Homo sapiens: one gene and its partner. The protein of the gene in region 1 interacts with the protein of each later gene in a pairwise test. Each region holds a gene or a part of one and is shown in the gene's direction. Other genes may lie near its edges.

Region 1 (3,292 bases):
GATAGACATGAGCCACTGTGCCCAGCCATAGGAGAGCATTTAAGCAGGGCTATGCATTGCTGTAGACGCCAAGGCTGCCGTGGGCATTAAGATGAAGGGAGTAATACTAGAAGTTAGGCCCAGTAAGTGGGTAAGGGCGTGGGTTAGGGACAAGCGGAGTGCAGGGATATATATTGGGGTGGCCTTCAGCAGAAAAGATCTGAAAGTCAAACCATGAAGAAGAGGAGAGTGTCAGATCAAAAACCCAAGCAAAGGATAGCTAAAAAACTGAACATTTTAATTTGAGCTTCCTGGTGGCCTAGGAGAAAAGAGAACTAGGGATGGAGATGTTCCTGCCTCCTTCAGCCCAGGGTGGATTCTTCCTGTCCAGGCAGGAATGAAAGAGGAGGTTGGGGGAAAGGATACGGGGGATCATCAGGGCCATCCTCCTAGATCCGAGGAGTCTGGGGAGCCACAGGCACCAGTGAAACCAAGAGAAGGGGAAGGATGAGGCACCAGGCAGAGCCCTAAGCCAACACCCAGTCCCCTCATCCTCCCTAGCTGCCTGGCTCGAGTAACTGGGGAGCTGACCATGACCTTCCCTGCTGGCATCGTGCGTGTGTTCAGCGGGACCCCACCACCACCTGTCCTCAGCTTCCGGCTTGTACACACAACCGCTATTGAGCACTTCCAGCCCAACGCCGATCTGCTGTTCAGGTACTATGGAGGGGCAGTGGGAGAGGGCCTCGGAGGCTGCTGGGGATCAGGCTTCCGGACTCTGAGTTCCCTCTCTGCTTCCTGGGATTTTTTCTTTTCTTTTTTTTTTGTAGAGACGGAGTCTTGCTCTGTCGCCCAGGCTGGAGTGCAATGGCGTCATCTCGGCTCACTGCAACTCCGCCTCCCGGGTTCAAGCAATTCTCCTGCCTCAGCCTCCCAAGTAGCTGGGATTACAGGCACGTGCCACTACACCCAGCTAATTTCTTTCGTATTTTAGTAGAGACAGGGTTTCATCATGTTGCCCAGGCTGGTCTCAAACTCCTGAGCTCAGGCAATCCGCCCGCCTTGGCCTCCCAAAGTGCTAGGATTACAGGCGTGAGCTACCACACCCGGCTTGATTTTTTTTTTTTAATTATTATTTTTTTGAGATGGAGTTTTGCTCTTGTTGCCCAGGCTGGAGTGCAGTGGCGTGATCTCGGCTCACTGCAAGCTCCGCCTTCCGGATTCAAGTGATTCTCTTGCCTCAGCCACCTGAGTAGCTGGGATTACAGGCATGTGCCACCATGCCTGGCTGATTTTTGTATTTTTAGTAGAGATGGGGTTGCACCATGTTGGTCAAGCTGGTCTTAAACTCCTGACCTCAGGTGATCCACCCGTCTCAGCCTCCCAAAGTGCTGGGATTACAAGCATGAGCCACCACACCCAGCCACCTCCTGGGATTTGCTGTGTGGCGTGGGGCAAGTAACTTGCCCTCTCTGACCCTTGTTTTCCATCCCTCCTTTACTGCCCGCACCACAACCACCCAGGTAGGGCTTTGCTGGGCCCAGGGTGGGCCAGGAAATTGCATCTTTAGGAAGGGGTAGATTGAATGCTGGGAGCCCTGGGAGGGCATGTCCCGAGGATTGGGGTGATCAGTCCGGGTCTCTGCAGTGACCCCTCCCAGAGTGACCCTGAGACCAAAGACTTCTGGCTCAACATGGCAGCTCTGACCGAAGCCCTGCAGCGCCAGGCAGAGCAGAACCCCACTGCCTCCTACTACAACGTGGTGCTGCTGCGATACCAGGTGCGCCACCCGCATGGGGCCGGGAGGAGGTGGTGGAGTGGGGGACACGGTGAGCCGGCAGCAGACATGGAGGCGCCTGCGTGTTGGCCAGGCTGGTCTCGAATTCCTGACCTCAAGAGATCCAATCTGTGAGAGCCGATGAGCTGGAGGGAGTAGGCAGTGTGGGTCGGGAATGAACGGTGGAGGAGTAGGCAGTGTGGAAGAGCGTGCATCCCCTGTTGCAGATAGTATGTTTATGTGAACTAGAAGCAGCCCAGCCCCGGAACCTTACACTTGAACTTCCCTGGGAGACTTTGTTAGAATGAGGCGCTCTCCTGCCCCCTGCTGGAAACCTGGTGTAATACAGCCTCTCATCCATCAAATCTCCCTGTGACTGGACCCCCTTGGGGCGGTGCGTGCATCGCAGGGTCAAGGTGGTTGAATAGCGCATGGTGTGGCAAGACAGGATGGCCCAAGCTGTGTCCTCTCTCTCATTCTCATTCTTCCTAGTTCTCCCGCCCGGGTCCCCAGTCTGTGCCTCTGCAGCTCAGTGCCCACTGGCAGTGTGGAGCCACCCTCACCCAGGTCTCAGTGGAGTACGGCTACCGGCCCGGTGCCACGGCTGTGCCCACACCACTCACGAACGTCCAGATCCTGCTGCCTGTGGGGGAGCCTGTGACCAACGTCCGCTTGCAGCCGGCTGCCACCTGGTGAGGGCTTGCGGGAGGCCAAGGAAAACTCAGCAGTTTCCCCCATAACCCCAGACCTTCTCCCTGATGCATTGATTAAAGGGTGCACCCTCGGCCTGACCGTTAACTGTGAGCCCACCCTGCTTAGCACTAAGGGTGATGTTATGAGTGCCAGGTGCAGTGGCTCATGCCTGTAATTGCAGTGCTTTGGGAGGCTGAGGTGGGAGGATCACTTAAGGCCAGGAGTTTGAGACCAGCCTGGGCAATATGGTGAGATCTCATCTCTACAAAAAATATTTTGTTTATTTATTTATTTATTTAATTTATTTACTTTGAGATGAAGTCTCGCTCTGTCGTGCAGGTTGGAGTGCAGTGGCACGATCTCAGCTCACTGCAATCTCCGCCTCCCGGGTTCAAGCGATTTTCTCTGCCTCAGCCTCCCGGATAGCTGGGATTACAGGTGCCTGCTACCACACCCAGCTGATTTTTGTGTTTTTTTAGTAGACATGAGGTTTCACCATGTTGGTCAGGCTTGTCTCGAACTGCTGACCTCAGGTGATCCACCCGCCTCGGCCTCCCAAAGGACTGCGATTATAGGCATGAACCACTGCACCCAGCCTTACAAAAAAATATTTTAAAAAGTAGTCAGGCCGGGTGCGGTGGCTCACACCTGCAATCCCAGCACTTTGGGAGGCCGAGATGGGCAGATCACGAGGTCAGGAGATCGAGACCATCCTGGTTAATATGGTGAAACCCCGTCTCTACTAAAAATACAAAAAAAAAATCCGGGCATGGTGGCGGGTGCCTGTAGTCCCAGCTACTTGGGAGGCTGAGGTGGGAGAATGGCGTGAACCCGGGAGGTGGA
Region 2 (3,500 bases), about 24 Mb from region 1:
ATTGTCCAGGCTGGAGTGCAATGGTGTGATCTCGGCTCACTGCAACCTCCGCCTCCCCGGTTCCAGCAATTCTCCTGCGTCGGCCTCCCAAGTAGCTGAGATTACAGGCACCCACCACTATGCCCAGCTAATTTTTGTATCTTTAGTAGAGATAGGGTTTCACCATGTTGACTAGGATGGTCTCAAACTCCTGACCTCAGGTGATCCACCCACCTCAGCCTCCCAAAGTGCTGGGATTACAGCAGACAGTACTAGAAGCCAGGCTGTTTATTTCTTAGGTTTTACCTCCTGTACCCCGTTCATAGCTTCTGGGGAAATAAGGAATCAGGATTCATTCCAGATATTATCCCTTTCTCAGGTGTCCAGACTGATGCAAAATTTGGGGGCCAGTGCCTAAGGGAAGAGCTGGGCTGGGGAAGCTTTGGAAAGAGAAGTTGAGAGCAGCTGCAGTAAGAGGGAGGATGGTTAGCTTTCAGGAAGAACTTCCTGTTAAAAGTTACTAATACCAGCCGGGCACAGTGGCTCACGCCTGTAATCCCAGCGCTTTGGGAGGCGGGCAGATCATGAGGTCAGGAAGTTCGAGACCAGCCTGACCAACATGGTGAAACCCAGTCTCTACTAAAAATAAAAAAATTAGCCAGGTGTGGTGGCGCGCGCCTGTAATCCCAGCTACTCAGTAGGCTGAGGCAGGAGAACTGCTTGAACCCGGGAGGCAGAGGTTGCGGTGAGCCGAGATTACGCCACTGCACTCCAGCCTGGGCGACAGAGCAAGACTCCATCTCATTAAAAAAAAAAAAATTACTAATATCAGGGCCAGGCGTGGTAGCTCACGCCTGTAATCCTAGCACCTTGGGATTACAGTTGCCCAGGAGTTCGAAACCCGCCTGAGCAACATGGCAAAATCCCCTCTCTACTAAAAATATAAAAATTAGTCAGGCATGGTGGCACATGCCTGTAGTTCCAGCTACTTGGGAGGCTGAGGCGGGAGGATCACTTGAGCCCAGAAGGTCAAGGCTGCAATGAGCCGTGATGGCACCACTGCACTCCAGCCTGGGCAATGAGAGTGAGACCCTGCCTGAATGCCTGAATGGACGAATGTTACTAATACAGCTAAAGTCTGTTGCACATTCAGCGTGAGCCCCGCAGTGTTCTAAGTGTTTTCTGTGAATTGTGTCCTTTGATCCTCACAAGACGCTAGCGGGGAGGGACTGCTATTTTCCCCATTTTACAAATGAGAGAAATGAAGTGAGTGCTCAAAGAATCAGTACCAACAAATGGCGGGGGTGACGTGGGGAGCCCTGGCCGTCAGGCTCAGTGCCACAAATGGGGCCCCAGGAGCAGGGAAGCTGTGAGTGAGGCCCTCCCTGCTGTCTCCTCAGGTGACACCTCTGTCCTGGCGGGTGTGTACGGGCCGGCCGAGGTGAAGGTCAGCAAAGAGATTTTCAACAAGGCCACACTCGAAGTGATCCTGAGGCCGAAGATTGGGCTGCCTGGTAATTGGGCCCTGCTGAACCTCTGAGTGGTGCCCAGTTTGTCAAAATCACCCCCCCAGCTCCTCCCTACCAGCTGCCCCGAGTCTCCACTCCCCGCTTGGGTCTCCACTCAGCTGTTTCTGTCTTTAACTCTCCGCCTCTAATTAATAACTCATCTTCTGTTGCTTCTCTCTCTGCCTCTAATTTCTCCCTCCCTCTTTTCTCCCTCTCTCTGCCTCCACTCTCATTCATTCCATTAACCTGTTTTTCTTTTATTTATTTTTATTTATTTATTTTTTTTTTGGAGACAGTGTCTCGCTCTGTCACCCCGGCTGGAGTGCAGTGGCACGATCTCAGCTCACTGCAACCTCTGCCTCCCAGATTCAAGCAATTCCCCTGGCTCAGCCTCCCGAGTCGCTGGGATTACAGGCACGTGCCACCATGCCCACTAATTTTTTGTATTTTTTTAGTAGAGATGGGGTTTCACCATGTTGGCCAGGATGGTCTTGATCTCCTGACCTCAAGTGATCCGCCCGCCTCAGCCCCCCAAAGTGTTGGGATTACAGGCGCGAGCCACTGTGCCTGGACCATTAACCTGTTTTTCCACCCTTTTACCCTCATATCCCTCAGTCCCCACTGACTGGACCTGCTAGGGTGGGAGTGGGCGTGGGTAGCAGCACAGACATGGAACTCCCAGGTCTTCTTCCCTTGGATGGTTCCCTTGGTGGATGCTGGAGGTAGCAGGGGTCAGTGGATGGCAGTCAGGCCTTGCCTTCTTCCCACTGGAATCTTCCATCATCCCTGCAGGTAACTGCACCATCCCAGGCTGAGACCGTGAGCCCTTTCTGGGAATTTGGGTGAGGCGTATGGAGGAAGGTGAGTCAAATGAAGGGGAAGACCCTGAACCTCTCTTCAATTTCCCCAGGTGTTGCAGAGAAGAGCCGGGAGCGGCTGATCAGGAACACGTGCGAGGCGGTGGTGCTGGGCACGTTGCACCCCCGCACCTCCATCACCGTGGTGCTGCAGGTTGTCAGCGATGCCGGCTCTGTATCCTTTCTGCCAGGCCTCCTCCTCCAGGAAGTCTCCTGATTGCTTCCCTCCTGGCGGATACATATACCCTCACTGCTAGCCAGAAAGCCTTCAAACACTTGACAGGTACCAGCTCACTGAAGAAGGAGAGCAAACAGCCTGGGTGCTTACTTATGTGCCAGGCACTGTTCTGTGTGCCTTATGCACATTAACTCATGTAATATAGCACATGCCCTTATGATCCCCGTGGAAGTGGCAGAGCCAAGACTTAGACCCAGACCGTCTAGTTCTAGAGCCCACGGACCCTGGCAGATGAGTGTTCTTATGTTCGCATGTTTCAGGTGACAAAACTGAGGCCCAGAGAGGGGAAGGGGCTTGCCCAAGGTCACACAGCTGGAAGGCAGCACAGGCAGGACTCAAGCCCAGGCCAGTCTGACTCCAGAGCCTGTGCCAATCACTTCTTTTGTTTTTTGGGTTTTTTTGTTTGTTTTTGAGACAGGCTCTCACTCTGTCACCCAGGCTGGATGCAGTGGTGCAATGTCAGCTTACTGCAACCTCTACCTCCCGGGCTCAAGCGATTCCCATGCTTTAGCCTCCTGAATTACAGGTGGAATTACAGGTGCCTGCCACCACGCCAGGCTAATTTTTGTATTTTTAGTAGAGACGGGGTTTTGCTGTGTTGGCCAGGCTGGTCTCGAACTCCTGACCTCGAGTGATCAGTCCACCTTGGCCTCCCAAAGTGCTGGGGTTACAGGCATGAGCTACTGTGCCCGGCTGGCAATCACTTCTACTCGGCACCTCAGTGGATTTCAGGCCCTCAGTGCTGGGGGCGCCCTGAGCAGACAGCAGCTGAGTCAGGAGCGTGGCCTTGTAAGATCTCCATGTCTGAGGTGCGAGAGGTTGAGGTTGAGGACTAGAATTAGACACTGTAGAAGGCTTTACTGGAACGTGGCCCTGAACTGGACAGACATTTTATGGATGGGCAGAGAGAGAAGGTAT

The links. The genes of interacting proteins can lie anywhere in the genome.
Region 2: the proteins of FCHO1 (region 1) and EXOSC5 interact in binary tests that used the Homo sapiens proteins (3 or more experiments, as listed by UniProt).

The regions. Positions count from the first base shown.
Region 1 is NC_000019.10:17,782,477-17,785,768, forward strand, and holds part of FCHO1 (F-BAR domain only protein 1), read left to right. Parts: intron 1-432; exon of another isoform or gene 433-540; coding exon 541-696; intron 697-1,626; coding exon 1,627-1,759; intron 1,760-2,248; coding exon 2,249-2,448; intron 2,449-3,292. UniProt on the Homo sapiens protein: Functions in an early step of clathrin-mediated endocytosis. Has both a membrane binding/bending activity and the ability to recruit proteins essential to the formation of functional clathrin-coated pits.
Region 2 is NC_000019.10:41,390,860-41,394,359, reverse strand, and holds part of EXOSC5 (exosome complex component RRP46), read left to right. Parts: intron 1-1,379; coding exon 1,380-1,493; intron 1,494-2,397; coding exon 2,398-2,519; intron 2,520-3,500. UniProt on the Homo sapiens protein: Non-catalytic component of the RNA exosome complex which has 3'->5' exoribonuclease activity and participates in a multitude of cellular RNA processing and degradation events.